4 separate regions of the Homo sapiens genome follow, and regions 1, 2 and 4 are each linked to region 3. Evidence: fine-mapped expression QTL. A gene starts in region 3. Each other region holds a variant in brackets. All regions are shown on one strand. Distances are between the middles of the regions.

Evidence for each region. PIP is the estimated chance that this variant, and not a neighbour inherited with it, causes the effect.
Region 1: its variant is the best candidate, but not a certain one, in a credible set for the expression of LGALS8 in neutrophils (BLUEPRINT, PIP 0.62).
Region 2: its variant is the best candidate, but not a certain one, in a credible set for the expression of LGALS8 in lymphoblastoid cells (GEUVADIS, PIP 0.74).
Region 4: its variant is the best candidate, but not a certain one, in a credible set for the expression of LGALS8 in whole blood (INTERVAL, PIP 0.79).

The regions. Positions count from the first base shown.
Region 1 is chr1:236,624,575-236,629,848 of GRCh38, forward strand. No RefSeq gene overlaps it. Among named protein-coding and RNA genes, the nearest start is that of HEATR1, 23 kb to the left of the region's middle. The variant C/CTTTTTTTTT (reference allele first, on the strand shown) is at 2,328.
Region 2 is chr1:236,568,888-236,574,161 of GRCh38, forward strand. It overlaps HEATR1 (HEAT repeat containing 1), which reads right to left. Exons shown (of 45, transcript NM_018072.6): 25 at 3,838-3,941; 26 at 3,524-3,667; 27 at 2,681-2,799; 28 at 2,464-2,585; 29 at 109-237. Among named protein-coding and RNA genes, the nearest start is that of HEATR1, 33 kb to the right of the region's middle. The variant AGAACTCATTCAATAAG/A (reference allele first, on the strand shown) is at 2,877.
Region 3 is chr1:236,520,784-236,526,057 of GRCh38, forward strand. It overlaps LGALS8 (galectin 8), which reads left to right and starts at 3,199. Exons shown (of 10, transcript NM_201544.4): 1 at 3,199-3,278; 2 at 5,185-5,274. It overlaps LGALS8-AS1 (LGALS8 antisense RNA 1), which reads right to left and starts at 3,725. Exons shown (of 1, transcript NR_034040.1): 1 at 2,286-3,725. RefSeq lists a silencer at 3,492-3,541.
Region 4 is chr1:236,743,989-236,748,988 of GRCh38, forward strand. It overlaps ACTN2 (actinin alpha 2), which reads left to right. Exons shown (of 21, transcript NM_001103.4): 12 at 638-788; 13 at 3,679-3,787. Among named protein-coding and RNA genes, the nearest start is that of MTR, 49 kb to the right of the region's middle. The variant CA/C (reference allele first, on the strand shown) is at 2,718.

The DNA.
Region 1 (5,274 bases), 100 kb after region 3:
TCTAGTTTTATAGACTCACAGATGGAGAGGAACCAGATCTAAAGAGCCTCACCTGCACCTGGATCTTATTTAGATTTTGAAATTCTGAATTCAAGCACACATTGCAGTGGGATGAGACTCTTAGGAACCTTAAGAGGGGTGAATATATTTTCATGTGGGAGAGGCATGAATCACTGGGAATCAGGGCAGACTGTGGCATATTGATTCTAAAAATGACCTCCGTAATCCCTGCCTCCTGGATTTAATCCCTTCCCTTGAGTGTAGGTGGGACCTGCGACTTGATTCAATCCACAGAATACAGCCTGCATGACAGAATATGTGTGATTACATGTAAGTGATTACATTACATATGATTGTAACATCAATCTTTCCAGGAGACTCTACTTTGCTGGCTTTGAGAAAACAAATGATTCTGGAAAGATTAATATGGCAAGGACCTAAGGAACTCCTTCAGCTAATACCCAGCAAGAAACAGAGGCCTTTAGTCCAATGGTCCACAAAGAAACAAATGCTACTAACAACCACATGAGCTCGGAAGCAGATCCTTCCCCAGTCGAGTCTCAGAAAAGCCTGCAGCCCAGATGACATCTTGATCACAATTTTGTGAGGCCCTAAGACAGAGGACTCAGTCTAGTTGTGTCTGGAATCCTGAACCTCAGAAACTGTGAAATAATAAGTTTATGTTGTTTTAAGCCAGCAAGTTTGTGATAATATTGTTACACAGCAAAAGAAAAAACTAATATAAAGTTTAACAATGCCTCGAGTGTTTACTGATCCTGTGACAAGGAAAGTAAGAAGAAACAGAACAGAAGACTTTGTCCATGATCCTTACTGGAATTGTTAACTTGCCTGCTTCTACACTGCCAACCACAGGAGTAGAGACAGCTTTAGCTTTCATTACATGAAAAGTACTGCCAACTTGGGTAATTCAATATAAGACCAGAGCCTTCAGGGAGCCAACAAAGAAAAATACATCTTATTTAAGGAGAACGACCAGTCAAAAAGAAGAATATAAGTCAAAACTAACAGAACATTTATTAATCAGGATAGAGTAGCTGAAAAAGATAGACAACATCTTGAATTGTAAAAAATAGTAAAAGTGAGCTAGGCATGGTGGCTTTTGCCTGTAATCAGCTACTTGGGGGCTGAGGTGGGAGGATCACTAGAGGCCAGGAGTTCAAGACCAGCCTGGACAACATAGAAAGACCCAGTCTCTGCAAAAATTTTTAAAAATTAGCCAGACGTGGTGGAGTGTGCCTGTGGTTCTAGCTACTCAGGAGGCTAAGGCAGGAGGATCCCTGGAGCTCAAGAGTTCGAAGCTGCAGTAAGCTATAATCACACTACTGTACTCCAGCCTGGGTGAGTGAGCAAACCCCAACTCTTAAAAAAAATAGTCAAAGAAGCCTCACTTTTAGTAATGGTGCAATAGCTTGATTGAACTTACTCTCTTGCAGATAAAAAATAGTAAAATCTTCACAAAATATAAAAAACTTAAGGTACTAAAGAATGACCCAAAGCAGTCAAACAGCGGTGAGAAGTGACCCTTGCACCAGTAAAGATCTTTTATTGTGATCTCAGATTTTTTTCTCATTTATTAATTCACTGCAAGAAGCCAGCTAGTCTCTGCTAAACCTCTAGGACTGGAGTTTGTTCATTCCCTCCCATGTCCTGGCCTTCCTTGAATCTTCTTTTCCTTATGGACCTAGGATCTCTATGTTCCTGCTTCATTGGCCAAATCCCTGGCCCTAGTAACATGGCCCTTGCCCCGACTGTGGTTGTTTTTTTCTTTTTTTCTTTTTTTTTTAAACTTAATGGTAATTTTATTTTCCTAACAGCTTTATTGAGATGTGATTCACATATGAAAATCATACATATTTGAGATGTACAGCTTGATGTTTTGGTATTGCAGCATGCTGTTCTTAACAACTCAAATGACAGCCATCTTTCTTTTCTACACATATGGCAACTTGGCCTCTGAGATCCACGATACCAAATTAGCACAGCTGACATGTATATCTGACAAATGACTGATATGCAGAATATTTAAGGAACTGCTTCAAATCAAAAAGAAAAGATAGACATTCAATAGAAAAAAATGGGCAAAAGACTTGAACAAGCACTTTTAAAAAGACAATATCTGAATGTGTTTAATAAACATGTAAGTATGTTCTCTGCATCATATTGAAGGTCAATGACCTATAAGACCTTACCTCTTTTATACCTCTTTGACTTCTTCCCCTATTGCTTTCTGCTCTTCTTATAACAGCTATAACTATAATTCCATCTACATCTCTTGGATGCTTGCTGATTTTCTTTTTCTTTCTTTC[C/CTTTTTTTTT]TTTTTTTTTTGAGATGGAGTCTCACTCTGTTGCCTAGGCTAGAGTGCAGTAGTGCAATCTCGGTTCACTGCAACCTCTGCCTCCCGGATTCAACACCTCATACCTCATTCTCATACCTCATGCCACCTGATTCTCATACCTCAGCCACCTGAGTAGCTGGGATTACTGGTGTGTGCCACCACACCCAGCAAATTTTTTTCATATTTTTAGTAGAGACGGGGTTTCACCATGTTGGCCAGGCTGGTCTCGAACTCCTGACCTCAAGTGATCCACCTGCCTTAGCCTCTCAAAGTTCTGGGATTACAGGCATGAGCCACTGTGCCTGGTTCTGCTTGCTGTTTTTCCAAACACTAGACATGTTTTCACCTCAGGGCCTTTGAATTCACTGTTCCTTCTGTCTTCGATGCTCTTCCCTGAGATAATGTCATAGCTATCTCCTTTTTTCAAGTCTTTGCTCAAACATCACCTTTTTGGTGAACTCTTACCTGGAAGTCCCTCTAAAATTACTAACAACCCATTACCACCATCGGACACTCCTATATCCCTTCCCTTAGCACTCATTACCTAACATACTAACTGTGTTATTTATTTAGCTTGTTTACTACCTGTTTCTCCATCTAAAATGAGTGCCATGTGTGCATAGATTGGTGTCTGGGTTTTTTCCTTTTTGTTACTTCTGCAATATTTAGAACAGTGACTGACACATATCAGGCACTCAATAATTATTTGCTGAATTTCTCAATGTCTCGATTTGGCATAAGGATTTCATTTTCCCATGGTATATTTTCTTCTGTGGATTGATGGGCTAGTACTAATTTGCACGGGTGTCTTGGTGATTCACAATCATGATTTTAATGTCCCAGTCCCCTTTGGCTACAGGAGGTACTTGATCCTAGGTGACTAAGGCAGAAATAAATAGAATGTGTAGGACTCCTCTGGTGTAAAAAGTCATGGGTTCCAAAAGTTCATTTATAAGTCAATTGTTTGGACATCCTGAACTTATTTTCAGAACACGATTGGGCACAGCTAGTTAACTGCAGGGAGGCCTGAGGAGACTGGAAGGTGCCAGAACCTGGAACCAGATCTGCCCACTAGGACAGGACCAGCCCTGGAAGGACAGGAGCAGGTGCACTGGATTCTAAAGGTGTTCAGTGCAGCCGGCAGGGGACATTGCCCTGAAGGCAAGATTACAGGCAGCAGTCAGCATTAGAGAGGGCCCAGAGGAAATGGGGAGACCCTATTGGGAAGCAGAGTCTAGCAACTGGCAATGTAGGAGTAGTGATGGGCTGTTTACCAAAAACATCATTAGTGCAATAGTAACTGCAAAACAGAGAAAATATTTGTAATTCATATGTATCTGACAAATGACTCATATGCAGAATATTTAAGGAACTGCTTCAAATCAAAAAGAAAAAATAGACATTCAATAGAAAAAAATAACAAAAGACTTGAACAAGCACTTTTAAAGAGACAATATCTGAATGTGTCTAATAAACATATAAGTATGTTCTCCACAGCATTTGTAACCAGTCAAATGAAAGCCACAGTGAGATTTCACTACACACCCACCAGAATGGCTAATATTAAAAAGACAGGCAATACCAAATGTTGGTAAAGATGTGGAACAACTGACATTTTGTTATACTGCTGGTGGAAGTACAAATTGGTACAAATATTCTGTAAAATTATTGTTTTCTCATTACTGAAACTCTCAGGTATGCTATATACTCAACAGAAATGTTGAGAAATGTGTGCGTACGAACACCGAAAGGCATGTTTGAGAATGTCCATAGCAGCATATTTTGTAATAGCATAATCTGCTTCCGATGCAGATGTTTATCAACAGAAGAATAAACATATACATTGTGAAACTGTCATACAGTGGAATACTATTCAGCAATGAGAACAAACAAACCATTGCAACGCACAGCAATATGACAGACTCTTACAAGCCTAATATCAAGCAATAGATGTCAGATGCAAAGGAATACAAATAGCACGATTCTATCTATATAAAATTCAAACCCAGTAAGAATTAATCTATAATGAAGGGAATAATTTGTGCAGCAGAGATAGGTAGTTACTGGGAGGAGGCATAAGGGTTTCTGGGGTCACGGGAATGTTCTGTTTCTTGATTTGGGCAGTAAATACACAGGTATGTTCATTTTGTGAAAACCATCAGGCTATAAACTATATATACTTTTCTGTATGTATGCTGTATTATAGTAGAATATGCACTTAATTTTTTTAAAAGGCAAGAAGTCATGGGATCAGCAGTACGAAGCATCTTGGCATGTAGCATGACCCAAAATCCAAGCAGGGGTCAGGAGTTAGAAGCCACTTCAGGTAAGGGAGACTGATGAGAGTTATGCAATACCACAACCCAGGAAGAGTTTGGGAGTTACATAGACAGGTTTTAGCCCAGACCATCTGAGCTGGTCGGGCTCAGTCTGCCACTTACTACCATGAGCCACCTAACCAACCTCTCTGGATCTCAGTTTTCTCATTTGCAAAATGAAGGTAATATGAAACTCTCCAGGTTTGCTTGGTACAGAGAACAAGTTTAACAAATATTTGCTATTAATAATAATAGTCATTTTACCTCAGCAGGTGCAAGAAGGAGATTTAGTTACTGCCCCTGCAGTATAGAGTTCAAGCTTTGGGTCTCAGGAACAATATAGAAACCCGCTAATGTGAACCAGGGGTCAAAGTCAGAGCTGAACACATATTAAAAGGCACTCAAGTGACTTCCTGAGTCCTGGGCTAGAAATGTTCAAAATTCTGTAGGACAAATCTGCATCACGCGAGGAGAGAGAAGAGATGCAGAGAGTGGGCTGGACCCGACAGAGTAGTTTGTCCCACAAATATGACTGCTGACAATTTCTCCTATCTGTGCATACTCCAGGAGATGGAGTCTAGTTTCCCCCTCCTTGAAAGAATGTTGGC
Region 2 (5,274 bases), 48 kb after region 3:
AAAAAAAAAACAAAAAAAAAAAACTAAAAAAAAGGCTTTTAATGTCATTTATATGCAAAATTTTTAAATTAAAAAAAGAAACCCCACGATGGTATAAAGAGACCTTACCTGAATAAGTGCGGGAATAACCATTTTCACTGTCTTGTTAATAACTTGAAAACTGTAAGTATCATCTAGGCGCATGACATTGGCTCCCATAAATGTAAAAATAGACATGATATTGTGTAAAACTTTATCCTGAAAGAAAACACAACTATCAACATTTTTTATTTCTGTTAATTTCTACTAATTTTTTTTTCAAGAGATAGCGTCTCGCTCCGTCATTCAGGCTGGGATGCAGTGCAGTTGTGTGATCACAGTTCACTGAAACCTTGGACTCCTAAGCTCAAGCAATCCTTCCACCTCAGCCTCCTGAGTAGCTAGGACTACAGGTGCATGCTACCCTGCCCAGCTAATTTTTTTTCCTTTTCTGTTTTGTAAGGGTGGGGTCTCACTATGTTACCCAGGCTGGTCTTGAACTCCCAGGCTGGTCTTGAACTCCTGGCCACAAGTGATATTCCTGCTCAGGCTAACATTTTCCATTTCAACAATTCATTACAACTCACCAATAAAAAGAGAAATAACCTGATTAAAAAACAGGCAAAGGATTTGAAAAGACATTTCTTCAAAGAAAAAATTCATACGAAAAGAATATAAGCACAAATACTACTTCACACCCACTAGAATGGCGATAAAAAAGACAGTAACAAGTACTGGCAAGGATGTGAAGAAATTGGGAACTTTACAGGCTGCTGGTGGAAGCAAAATGGTGTGGCCACTATGGAAAATAGTCTTGCAAGTTACTCCAAAGCTAAACATAAAATTCCGTGTGACCCAACAATTCCACTCCTAGGTATATATACCCAGGAGATATGAAAACATGTCCACACAAAACCATGTCTACAATATTCATAGCAACATAATTTATAATAGCCCCACAGTTGAAACAACCCAAATGTCCATCAACCGATGAACAGATAAACAAAATGTGGCATACACATACAACAATATTATTCAGTCATAAAAGGAATACGGATTCAAGCTTCAACAAGAATGAACCTCAAAAACATTATGCTAAGCAGCCGGGCACGGTGGCTCACGCCTGTAGTTCCAGCACTTTGGGAGGCCGAGGCGGGCGGATCATGACATCAGGAGATCGAGACCATCCTGGCTAACACGGTGAAACCCCGTCTCTACTAAAAATACAAAAAAATTAGCCGGGCGTGGTGGCGGGTGCCTGTAGTCCTAGCTACTCGGGAGGCGGAGGCAGGAGAATGGCATGAACCCAAGAGGCAGAGCTTGCAGTGAGCTGAGATCGCGCCACTGCACTCCAGCCTCGGCAACAGAGCGAGACTCCGTCTCAAAACAAACAAACAAACAAACAAAAACATTATGCTAAGCAAAAGAAACCAGACACAGAGGGCCACATATTGTATGACTCAATTTATATGACATGTCCAGCATAGGCAGATTGAGAGAGACAGAAAATGGATTACTAGTGGCCAGGAGCAGGGTGGTGGTCATGGTGGTGGTGGTGGTGCTGGTGGTGACGGTGGCAGCGGCAGGGAGGAGGGAGAGGAAGAGTGACAGTTAATGGGTGTAGGGTTTCTTTTCTGGGGTGATGAAAATACTCTTCAAGTAGATCGTGGTGGTGATTACAGAAACTTCGTGAATATACTAAAATCACTTAATTGTATACTTTAAATGGGTGAATTTTATGGCATCTGAACTATATTTCAATAAAAACAGAAAAAATATTAATGATTCTTAACTGTTTCTGGATTATCAACCCCTTTGAGAAGCACAGACTCTCTTACAAGAAAAAAAGAAATCCCATACAGATAAAACTTTGCATATGATTTCAGTAGATTAAGATCCCCTAAAGCTCATGGAGAACCCCAGGTTAAGGAGCTCTGACTCAAATCCTCAATATGAAAATAGCTTCAATCTCTTTACAAATGTTTAAATGATATTTTTCATAAAAGGGACATGATTTCTTTAAATGACATAGTTTATGATCAAATTAATTTTCTGAAGTCACTGGTTAAAGGTTACTTTGAGGATTACTTGAGGATAAATGAGATATTAACTTTTCCCAATTAACACCAATACCTACTGTTTTATTAGATAGATAGTGTGCCAGGTATTATGCTAAGTACTAACCACAAATTATCCAACTGAATTCCCCCAACAATCCAGTGAAGAAGGTTATTATTCCCACTTGATAAAAAGGGAAACCAAAGCTTAGCAAGATCAACTGGCTTATACAGTCCCAGCTATGAAGAGGCAGGGCTGAGAGTCTCACCAGTGCTGGAAGATTCCAAAGCCTAATTGATTAAATTTAAAATCAACAGGTGCCAGTGCATTTCTGTGGAAGAAAAATATCTGAAATATCTGCTAAAATCTTATATCATTAACGCTTACCGGAAATATTCCAGCAACAGTGCCCAAAAGTAAAAGGGCATGGTGATGGGTCTGCGGCATCTCCGAAAGGCGGATGCACTGAACTATCAACTCCACGTTGAACTTCTCCTCATCTAAAATATCTACAATGGTGAGAAAGACAAAAACCCTAAGTGGCAGGTACACTCACGCTCAAAGTAGATAATTTTTCTAACCTTTCCTTCCAAAAAGTACCTACCTTTGGGTATTTTGCCACCATCTGGAGATAGTTTTTGGCAGATGTTGAGCAGACAACTAAGAATTAATTGTTTGGTGTATTCCATATTTCCCTGCTCTTGTGGCAAGGGTTCTAAACATCTTCAGGACACCCAAAAGAGAAATGATGGGAAATGTAAAAGTTGTACAATTCATTGTTACATTAATGGCCATTGTCC[AGAACTCATTCAATAAG/A]GAACTCATTCAATAAGGAATAACTAAAATACTATCATTAAACATCAAGTCTAGAAATAAGATATAAGATTTCTAACTCTAATTTTCTCTCATATAGACAGGCGCTATGTCAAATTCCACGTCCTCTCTATTGCACTTTCCATTAGCCTATCTGGAATCTTACAGGACAACCTTCAGAATTACTTTGCCTTTCACATGAAAGCACACGCTACAATTCATACTCAATTTACACACACACATACACAAATCTACGTATATAGAATATATACATCTATATATATGAAAATATATTTAGATAGCAAACACTATATACACACATATCTATATCTATATAAATTCAACACTATATCTTGAAATGCAAGTAATGACGTCCCAGGCACGCTACTGAAAAGTTCAGAGGAAAGTAGGCTGTACAGTGAGTGGCCATTTACTACATGACACAGGACACTAAGGTCAGTTTGGGGCACCAGCAATGGATACCTAAAACCAATCTTTTAATTTCACCTATAGTACTTGCTTTATTTTACAGACTATCTAAACAAGAGAAGAGTATGTTGAAAAGAGAATGTTAGATAAGATGGGCAAGAATTAGAGTCCTATTCTCTCACAGATCAAAGCCAAGTGTCATTACCTTGATAGCAAGTTAAAAAGAGTTGGCACCAATATCTGAGGACTTCTGAGCTTCTTTTTGTGCTGCAGTAATTCCAGGATGAGAGTTACTCTTTGCCAGTAAGAACCTCCAACTTCCTGAACAGATTCTAGATCTTGTGATTTTCTGGAAAATGGAGAAGACAAAACGTTGGAAAAGCAAACTCTATCATGTGCTAAGTAAAAACCATTGTGCCTGATTATAGCAAATTGATGAGTATCAAAAAGTTCCAATGGTTTCATAACATTCAGAGTCAGGGAACAACAGCATGTGCTCAATGCATTTGTAGCTCTTACTTCTGCTGCATTTTTTGCCTTCTTTTTTGCTGAACTGTGCCCAAGGGTTTAGCTTTATCTGGTGGCTCCAGTTCTATTCGGACTTGTTCAGCATTAACGGAAATCTGAAATATTGAAGGAAGAAGAGTTGATGATATAATCCATTGGGATAAAATTAGAGCAATAAATGTTAACCCCTAGGAAGGATTTATTCAATTAAGAGGGAAGAATGACTTACTGGATATGCATCTGAACCCCCCCCAGCATTGGATGCTACTACCTTGTTACAGACTTCTTGAAAAACCAGAATGAGAAGAAAGCAAAGTAGGGAAGAGTATACACTAAAAGCTCTAGCCAACATAAATTCAACTTCAGATTTTCATTTTAACCAAGCTCTCCTACTACCATGCACTTGCTTTCTATACAATTTGTCTTGGGAGTCTCAAGTTACAGCCCTGCACTTGTCTTGATTATGATACAGTATCACTTCTCCAGTCCAGAGTCACTCAATTTCACGCTCATCCCTTAGAGTGGACAACTAGTAATGCAATACAGAATCATCCATACCGATTGTTTCCAAGTGCCGGATCAGATATGTATATTCTAATCAGCTAGGAAGGAATAAGACATATACACACATGCACAAAAACAGATTTACTGCCCCAGAGATTCTTTAGATATGGGGTGGGATCCAGATATCTCTTTTTATAAGGTTCTAACATCACAACTAAATCTTTGGATTCTGATTCAAAGAAAACAACTATAAAAAATACTTTTGTGATAACCATGGAAATATGATTATGAACTAGGTATTAGATAATACCAAGGAATTATTTTTTTTTTTACTTCTAATGGCATTGTAGTCATATCCACTTTTCAAAAGATGCACACTGAAGTACAGAGGGATGAAAGTGCATGACATTATGAGATTTACTTTAAAATATTTCAGCAAAGAAAAAGAAGGAAAAAAGATTAATATGTTAAAATTCTGAGAACTGCTGAATCTAGATACTAGAACTTTGTATTATTCTATATTCAAAAAAGAGAATAACCAGGTGGCTATTCTGATAATAACAAGGTTTCAATATACGTATAAAACCAACAAGCAGAATTTCAATTCCATTATATGTCATTAAACAACTATTTAAATTAAGTAGAATAATGTTACCCAGTTCAATACTGAGCCATTGACTCATTCCTATTCCTTGCATAAAGGAATAGGTAGATTCCGTCTAATATGAGAAAGATCACACACACACATATTCCTACACATCCTATCTGGTTAAAATTATCAACAAATACTTCATAAAATAAAATAATGGTAAAGATTTAAAATTTTTATTTTATGCCTCTCTCTGACTTACTTTTCCATGATTTTTGTTAATGGTAACATCTGACCTCTTACAAGCACTATAAAATACAGGACTCTTAAACATGGTGTCCCTTGGAAGAGACTAT
Region 3 (5,274 bases):
CATGATGTCATATCATTCTTCCCTCATGCTTCAGCCATACTGGTTGGTGGCCTTTGTTTCCTGAACACATTTAATGCATTCTCAAGACCCTCAGGGACTTTGCAGCAGCTGCTCGCTAAGGCTGGAATGCTCTTCCCCACCATCTTCATATGGCTGTTTCCTTTCTTTCACTCACCAGCAGCTTAAACTTTGACTCCTCTGAGAGACTTTCCTTGTCACCCAACTAAGGTTGCCACTCAGGTGCTCCCAATTTAATCTTCTCTAAAACACATCACTGTATGTGTCCTCAACTAGAGTATAAGCTTCCTCGAAACAAGAACAATCAAAACTCCTTGCCCTCATGGAGTTTATAGTCTTATGATGGGTGAAGTAACATAAAATAAAAAGGCACCTTATATAGTATATTAGCATGACAAATGTTAGCCAGAAATAAAGCAAGGAAGAGTTGCTAGGGAGTGTGTATGAGTGTGTTTTGGGAGAGTGTTTGCAATTTTAAATATTGGTGGTCAGGAAGGGCCCCACTGAGAACTGACATTTGAGTAGACTTGAAAAGGGAAAAGGAAATATTGAGTAAAGATTTTAGGATGGGAGTGTGACAGGCCTGCTAGGAGAATAGCAAAGTCGCTGTGGCTGCTGCAGAAAAAGTGAGAAGGAAAGTAGTAGGAGATGAAATCACAGTGTGTGAGGATTCGGGCAGATCAGGAAGTGCTCGTGTAAGAACTGGATCTTTACTCAAAGAATGAGCAAAAATTAGTAGACGGTTGGCCGGATGCAGTGGCTCACACCTGCAATCCCAGGTTACAGGAGGCCGAGGCGGGCGGATCACTTGAGGTCAGGAGTTCAAGACTAGCCTGGGCAACATGGTGAAACCTCATCTCTACTAAAAATACAAAACTTAGCTGGGCATGGTGGCGCGCACCTGTAGTCCCAGCTACTCAGGAGGCTGAGGCACATGAATCACTTGAACACGGTAGGCAGAGGCTGCAGTGAGCTGAGAATGTAACACTGTACTCCACTCCAACCTGGGCAACAGAGTGAGACTGCCTCAAAAAAAAAAAAAAGTAGGTTTTAGTAAGGGATTAACATGATCTGAATTATGTTTTGTCATGACTTCTCTGGCTGTTGTGTTGAGACTACATTGCAGAGGGGCAAGGGCAAATATAGGGAGACCGATTAGGATACTGCAGTAATAATGTAAGAGATGTGGGACTCTATCTAGAAGGGCCCATGAGGTCCTTTGCATGCTAGTATTCTTTACTGCTGTGCCTGGCCATGATAGGCATTCAGTGAATATTTGCTTATTTAAAATAACACACTGGGCTAATTGAACAACAGTGCCAAATGAGGGAGATATTTCTAGGAATAAGTTCTTAGGATTTATGAACATTTTAATCCAGATTTTCTTTGTTAACTCTGCTCTCTGGCCCTTTCACTCAGCCCCGTTTGCACCTAAATATGACTTACAAAAGAAACACAGCATTTATGTGTACTTATTTCAACTTATTTTAGCTTTGTAAAGAAGTACAAGGTTGACTCAGGGCCCAGCTTGGTGTCTCATGCCTGTAATTTCAGCATTGTGGGAGGCCAAGGCAGGAAGATATTGTGAGCCCAGGAGTTTGAGACCAGCCTGGGCAACACAGTGGACCCTGTCTCTACAAAAAAAAATTTTTAAATTAGCTGGGCATAGTGGTGTGCGTCTATAGTCCCAGCTACTCCTGGGGCTGAGGTGGGAGGATCACTTGAGGGAAACCCTGTCTCAAAGTGGCGGGGCTGGGGGGAGACTCAGGCAGAATTGTGAAGATATTCAATTGCTCCTGACTTTATCAATAATCTAACATTTCAACCTAACATTGATATCTATTTTATGCAAAGCATTACACTATGCACTGGAGACTGTATAAGACAAGTTCCTTTTCTCAAACTACAGTCGAGTTGGATAGATAAAACACACAACACATACCAAAAGACAGCTATAAATCCAAGGCAGTGTATGTCAAGGGTAAATTCACCTATTCAGATTGGATCTTGAGAAGTGCATCAGGCTTGGAAAATGGGTAAGGAGGAGAGAAAAGCAACAGTGAATCAGAACATGAGTTCCCAGTTATGGGACTTGTAATGAATTCCTCAATTAAAACAAAAAATAATGAAAACAAAAGCCAGGGAGGAGAAAGCCCACGTTAATGACACTAAAATATATCTTTCCAAACAAATGTGGATAAAAGCCAAGTAGAGAAGATGAGAACTTTGAGGTCCCTAACAGAAAATAAACAGTAAGCAGCCAGCCATTCCAAGTGGCTGACATGACTTTGTTTAACTTTATTTGTATTTCTGGCTGGTGTGTTTACAGCCAATAGGTCAAACTATCAGTCAGTGTAGGGCCCTGAGAAGTCGGGTATTTAAGAGCATCTAATAGGCACAGAATTGTGCTCCATACTGCTTAAACTGTTCCCTAAGTGTCCAATTTGGAGAAAACACCCACACGCAGGATAACTGGCGAGTGACGCGGAGTGGCTGCGAGTCCAAGTTATCACTAACGGATGGGGAGCTTGGGCTGGGCACAGTCCAGCGTACTGAACCCTTCCCCCACCGTTTCACCTGCATACAGAGGTGTGTACTGTCAAAAAGCAGCGCCTCCAAGTCTCTTCTGGCACTGTCTGGACTTGGATCCGAGGCAGACGAGGAAGCTGAGAAAACCCTGGCGTTGACCCCGTGGACCTGGGCGCCCCGGGAAGGCCAGCGCTTGGTCCAGGCAGGCGGGGCCTGTGCGGTGACCACCCTGGTCCTGAAAAGTCCCAGCCCCGAGCGCCCTCCCTCCTAGACCTGGAGGCCTGGAACAGCCAGGTGGACGTCGGCCCACCTTTCTTTTCTTTCCTTCCCATTTTCCTACCACCTCCCACCCCACTCCGCCTTCCGGGCAAAGGCAGCCAGATCCACCCAGGACACATTCTTTGTCCTTATCCCTCTGTGCTCGTCCCACAGCAAGCCAGTCGCGGTCCAAGGCTCCAGAGGCTGTGCAGGAGGCCGAGCTGGGTGGCGATCAGCGGCGGGTCCCTGTCCAAAACCCAGCAGAGCCGCCAGGGACGCCCCAGACACAGAAGGCGGGGCGCGGGGAGGGTGGGGAGACCACAGCAGTGAGGCGCGCGAGCCGGGAAGTGAACGAGGACTGACTCCTGTCGCTTCCCGTAGCCGCCCACGGACGCCAGAGCCGGGAACCCTGACGGCACTTAGCTGCTGACAAACAACCTGCTCCGTGGAGCGCCTGAAACACCAGTCTTTGGGTGAGTCGCGCGACCCCCGGCCTCGGGTGGCGGGGCAGTCGCTAGAGGCGTGGCTGCTCTGAGGGTCTCGCCAGTGGAGGATGGCATTCGGATGTCACGGCTCCTAAATCACCATTTGATGGGTGGGACAGTGTCCAGTCCACCCCGACCCGCCGGTCCTCACCGCGGCAGAGCCGGGGCTGGGTGGCGGGGACGCTGCCTCTGCAGGCGAGGCGCTCCGGGGCATAAGGGATTATCAGGAGTCGCGGCCTTTCTTGGACATCCCTGGCTGGGGTCAGGCTGTTTGCCCTGGGGTGTCTCCTCGCTGCAAACCCACCCCACCTGGGCTGCTTTCTCACCTGTTCCCTCCTAGCCTGAGGCCGAGCGCCACCTCCAAGTGGAGGAATCTGGGGAAGTTTCCTTCCCGGAATTTGTAGTGACAGTGGAGTGACCTCCATTGCGTTCCCTGCCTCTAACACGCTCTTTAGGATGCCGAGTCATTTGACTGCAGTGTTAAACATTGCAAAGCGCAAGTCATGTGACTTCCTTTGACCGTACGTGAAACTTAAGTGATGGCTGCTTGTGATGCATACGAAGTGTTCATGCTGGCGGGACCTGTCCCTGGGGATACTTCGGGGGTTGCGTGATTTAATGCAAGCAGATGGCTTAAATTGGGTCACTGGCTTGTTATTATACATGTGTATGGCAACTCGGCATCCATTCTTTTTGCTCTTGTTCTTACTTCCTGAATTGAGTCACGGAGCCAGAGTTTTGAGGTTTTGACTAACGAATTAAGTTAATGACATGGGGCTATATTTAGGTGGTAAACCAAGAGGGATACAGTTTTTTTTCTTAATAAAGAAAAAGTGATAGATTTGATCGGTGTGTATTGTTGGTGTGCAGTATAATGACAGAATTGCTGGAAGTAAAATACAGGAAGCTCTGGTTTCATTTCCCCTTTAGTTCTGCTTAAAGTCGAGTTTTTCCTGGAGCTATTAAATGTAGTGTAGTGTCCATGAGTGCTTTTATCTTAAAAAATGTGGCTGATGCTTTCCAACACTCCCCTGCCCTGTGATTATTATTTTTTTAAGCAACAGAGAAAACCGTATCTTAATAGTATTAAAAGTATTGGATTTTTCCCTACTTTGATTTGTTTAAATTGGAGGAGGAAGAGCAATTCTTTCTATTCACAATAATAATAGCTAACATAGCGCTTACTCTTTCGCTGTTTTATTAACTCAATCCTCAGAACAAACCAATGATGTGAATACTGTAATTCTCATTTTATGGAAATGAAAATCTAAATGAATACCTCTGGTAATTGTACGGGACTGTTTGATTAGTATTTACCATTAATTAATTAAATTTTTTTTTTTTTTTGAGATGGAGTCTCGTTCTGTTGCCCAGGCTGGAGTGCAGTGGCACAATCTCGGCTCACTTCAACCTCCGTCTCCCAGGTTCAAGCAATTCTCCTGTCTCAGCCTCCTGAGTAGCTGGGACTACAGGTGCATGCCACTACGTCTGGCTAATTTTTGTATTTTTAGTAGGGATGGGATTTCACCATATTGGTCAGGCTGGTCTCTAACTCCTGAACCTCAGGTGATCCACCCGCCTTGGCCTCCCAAAGTGCTGGGATTACAGGTGTGAGCCACCATGCCTGGCCTATTTTAGTATTTTTAATAATAAATTCCATGTTAGAAATTTTCTACTGATGTATTTTTTAAGTCAATATTTCCTACACTCACAATCCAAAATTATTTAGTATATGAGCACACTGGTAAGAATGGGAGGCAGATCGTTGATTGTAATAATATTCTATTATTTGGTAAATATCAGTAACATAATATATAATTTAAATTTTAAAATAGGATATGAAGAAAAATGCTACATGCTTACTTTTCTTTTCCTCTATTTTTACTTTACACAGGGCCAGTGCCTCAGTTTCAATCCAGGTAACCTTTAAATGAAACTTGCCTAAAATCTTAGGTCATACACAGAAGAGACTCCAATCGACAAG
Region 4 (5,000 bases), 220 kb after region 3:
CTTTCCACTTCCAATTTCATAGAATTCTTAAAGGTCATTAGCCAGGGGATAAATGTGGATCCACTCGTGACCACAGCAGTTACTGGATTTAAGAAATATTTATATGGGAAAATGTAAGTGGAGGGTCAGAGAGGAAAATTTCTAATATTTATTATCAGGAAAAACAAAGCACAGGCTCCATTTAAGCACACAGAGTATAGCTTTCAAACAAAAGGAACTAGGGTGGGGTAGGACTCATGGATAGACAAATGGAGCACCGGGGTTTTATCTAAGCATCCCTGGTAGCTCTTGGGAGTGAATAATTAGTAACTTAACTGAGGATCATGCAGGAATCAGATACTTGTGACTTAGAATGATGAAGACTACAAATTGGTTTTTTTCTAAAAACGCACTCAGCATGCTCTCCTTTCCCCTTTATTTGGAGACACGAGCTTTCAAAACTGAGAAGGGGCTGGGGCATCCTCAGCAGGTAACAGCCTGAATTCCATCACAACCCTGGCCTGCATCTTCAGTCCTGCCCCTCTCTGTCCCCTTCTCTTGGTTCTTTGGAATCTCACCGCTCCCTGAGAATGTGGCTGGCATGAGGAAGCCGCTGTGCCCTCAGCATATTCATACTTTCTTGCTACCACCTTTGCAGGCAAAGAGCAGATCTTGCTGCAGAAGGATTACGAGTCGGCGTCGCTGACAGAGGTGCGGGCTCTGCTGCGGAAGCACGAGGCGTTCGAGAGCGACCTGGCAGCGCACCAGGACCGCGTGGAGCAGATCGCAGCCATCGCGCAGGAGCTCAAGTATGTGCAGATGCCCTCCGTCCTCCCGGGAGCCCCTGGGATTCCACAGAGAGGGGAGAGAAAGGCCTGCCTTGCCTTTCCTGACTAAACGCAGAGGGAACCACGCTGGAGGCACTCTGTGCAGGGATTCTCCTTGTTTCTTTAAATGTAGAAACAGATTTTGGTTCTTAGATTGTGGTAGAATCCCTATGTCCTACCATCCAGCAGCACCCCGGCCCTCAGCACAGGCAGCTCCGCTTCCAGCAAGATGAGAAATAAGTCTGGAATATTGGGGCCCAGAAAGCTATGGGAAGGCGGCCTCACCCAGGCCAGGTGCAAGAAGCAGAATATAGCCTGTCCTGAAATCAACATAAAACCAAGCAAAACAGAGGGCACTGGCCGGGCGCGGTGGCTCACGCCTGTAATCCCAGCACTTTGGGAGGCTGAGGCGGGCGAATCATGAGGTCAGGAGATCGAGACCATCCTGGCTAACACGGTGAAACCCCGTCTCTACTAAAAATGCAAAAAATTAGCCGGGCCTGGTGGCGGGTGCCTGTAGTCCCAGCTGCTCGGGAGGCTGAGGCAGGAGAATGGTGTGAACCCAGGAGGCGGAGCTTGCAGTGAGCCGAGATCGCGCCACTGCACTCCAGCCTGGGCGACAGAGCGGGACTCCGTCTCAAAAAAACAAAAAACAAAACAAAATAAAACAAAAAAGTGGGCACTGCCTCACGTGTGCAGAAGAGACGTCAGGACCCCACTTTGCTTTATCATCCCCTAAGTGCTGTTTCACTTTCATGCGTTTGGTTTTATGGGAAGAACTGACACGACATTTGAGCCTAGGCTGGATTTGGCACGGAGTGAATGTTCTCAGTTCCCGCTCTGTGTAGTGTGAGCCCTGGGGTGCGGCTGCCCTCAGGGAGAAGAGCCTCCATGCCGTGTTTCTGAGCTTTCTTCAGGTCCTTTTCCCTTGTAATAAAGACAACATTTTATTTCCTACTCCTTTCCCCACCATTATAATCACTGATACATCTGTAGAATGTTTAGAGCCTGTCACATAATGGTAACTTCAAAAATTAAATAATAAAAATTTATTTCAATATATTACGTTTTAAAACTGCCACGTTCTGGCTGGGCACAGTGGCTCACGCCTGTAACCCCAGCACTTTGGGAGGCTGAGGTGGGCTGATCACGAGGTCAGGAGATCAAGACCATCCTGGCTAACACGGTGAAACCCCGTATCTACTAAAAATACAAAAAAAAATTAGCCAGGCATGGTGGCGGGCACCTGTAGTCCCAACTACTCAGGAGGCTGAGGCAGGAGAATGGTGTGAACCCGGGAGGCGGAACTTGCAGTGAGCCGAGATCAGGCCACTGCACTCCAGCCTGGGCGACAGAGCAAGACTCCATCTCAAAAAAAAAAAAAAAAAAGAAAGAAAAAAAAAAAGAAAACGAACTTAAGCTTTAAGAAAATGGATTTGGTAGGGTAGGAGGGGACTTTTCAAAGTTGTCTAATCCTGGACTGTTTTTGAAGCAGCCTCCTGAAGATGTCTTTAAACTTCCATGGTTCTTGATTTATATCTGAATGAAAAAGGTGATTAAGTTTTGTACAGGATTCAAACTTGTTATCCCTGGAGGTACTGGGTTAAGCTTCTAGTTAAGAATTTGCTTTAGGTTGGGTGCAGTGGCTTATACCTGTAATCCTTGTACTTTGGGAGGCTGAGGAGGTAGGACTGCTTGAGACCAGGAGTTCGAGACCAGCCTGGCAACACAGCAAGACTCCATCTCTAAAAAATTTTTGAAAAGAGCCGGGTGTAGTGGCACATGCCTGTAGTCCCAGCTACTTGGGAGCCTAAGACAGGAGGATCACTTGAGCCTAAGAGTCTGAGGCTGTAATAACGTATGATCACCCCCACTGCACTCCAGCTTGGATGACAAAGCAAGACCCTGTCT[CA/C]AAAAAAAAAAAAAAATTGCTTCAGTGGTGTGCACAGAAAGACCCCAGGTAGAATGCATAGATGGATCTGGCAAGGAAAAGTAAGGATTTAGTGAGAAATCATTTTGCCCTTGCTTGTCACTCTAGTGGCATTAGATGAGTCAGAACCTTTCTGTCTCTAAGTGGAAGGGCTCAGTTCGGCCCCATTTCAGAAATCCCGCTATGTTAGATAAAGTCATGGTGCCATTCTGGACCTGATACTCTACCCAGTGGTGAGGCCAAGTGCCCTTCTAGGGAAGCCAAGGACACAATGTGGCGCAGGCTGACTCTTCCCTCCCCAGTCACTGTGGCTGCATCCTGGCCCACAGGACTGTCCTCCAGGTCAGAGAGTGATGTCTTCCGACCTTCACTCATAGGGACATTGCCACTTAGAAATAATGCTCTCTGGGGGCCTCTCCAAGAAAAGGAAGGGGAAATAAATTGAGCCTGCGGCATTAAGAAGACAACGGTTCTCTCTGTTTAGAAATCTGTTGGCCAGCGAAAGTTTTATGAATTCTTCTTGTGATTTATCTGAGAGGAGTGATGTTTACAGTGATGACAGTTAACAAAACCCTGAAATACCATCCCAGTTCTCTATCAGATTTTTATTTTTTATTTCTTTTATGTGTATAAATGTAGGTGGGGTGGGGCACAAGTGCAGTTTTGCTACATGTGGCCAAGTCAGGGTTTTTAGGGTAGACATCACCCAAATAACATACATTGTATGAAATCACACTAAGTAATTTTTCATCATCCACCTACCCTTCCACCCCCTCACCCTTCTGAGCCTCCACTGTCTATCAGCCCACTCTCTATGTCCATGTGGATACATTTCAGATGTTTTTGTTTTTAAACTTCCCTGTTATTTTTCTTTTTTAGCCCATGTTCATTTTCTCTCATCATCTGGGAAAGTTAATCTTTATTTATTTTCACTTTTAATAGTGAACTGGACTATCACGACGCTGTGAATGTCAATGATCGGTGCCAGAAAATTTGTGACCAGTGGGACCGACTGGGAACGCTTACTCAGAAGAGGAGAGAAGCCCTAGAGGTGAAGTATTGAAGCCACTTGTTGACATGAAATCTTTTAATAGAAGCTCTTTAATTAAATCACTGGTATTCATTGTGTGTTTCTCTGTGGCATGAAACAGGTTGCCTAGTGAAAGGAACCTCTAAAGAAAACATGAAAAGTGGAAGAAAGAGGGAAATGGGAAGTTGGGAGCTTTGTGCTGTAATTTATCCAGACAGCAGCGAAGTATATTTTTCAATTTTAAAAAATCCAGGGGTGATGAGATTACGGCATAAATCTACTTTGTATCTGGTAGTAACAGTACGTTTCCAAAAGTCCTTCTACCTGAGTAAATTGAGCTGTGAGTGAGTCGGGAAATCAGAGATGTGCAAAGGGAAGATGGAACCAAGTGTTGAAGTGAGTACATTGATAGGAAACAGAATTGGGACGAATTTGGCCTTATTTAAGTGTAAGACTAAGTGTAAGACACAGTGGGTATCTTGTGTTTAACTGCCCCTAATTGTCTTTAACCATGGAAGACATCTCCCACGTGAGAGAAACCAGCAGTTTACCAGTTCCCTGAGTCTTTTCTGCTTGACTCTGATGATACTTTTGAGATAACCCAATATCAAGCTTCCCAAATGCCAAATGGCTGTGACATATCTGCTTAAAGAAAGAGATGTCAAGAGAAAGACCAGACATGTAACAGAGACAGCACAAAACATTTTAGAACAGGAGGGAAAAATGAACCTAATTATGGAAGGCTTAAAGCTACGGAGATGCCTTCCCCTTCTGCCCCCACTTGTCTGCCATGGGAAACAAGCGCAGGATCATCCTGTTGCTTGAAATCTTGTGCTTTCATATGCCCAGAAAGGCAAGAGGTGATCTGTGTTAAATCCTGAATGAGGATTTGAGAGCATGAACCTGCAGTTCCTTCTCTCTCCATTAGGTAGGTGACTTTGGGAAAGGCACACAACTTCTCTGCACATGTTGACTCTAAAACGTGGAAGATGCCCTGCATTTTCTGTTAATCTGGCACAGTTAGGGAATCAGGTCCTCTTATAAAGTCCTGCTTTAGCTGAAAGCAAGTTACAGTATGCCGTATGTGGAGTCTCAGTTTTCAGAAAAGTAGCATGTAGTGAAGTACTTTAGACACTTTAAAAATGAGGCTGCTCTGGATGTTATGAAATCCTTCTTTGATTCAGAAGGCACCTCAGAGACCTGCAGGGCTCAGCCTAATTGTTTGAGCATCGGG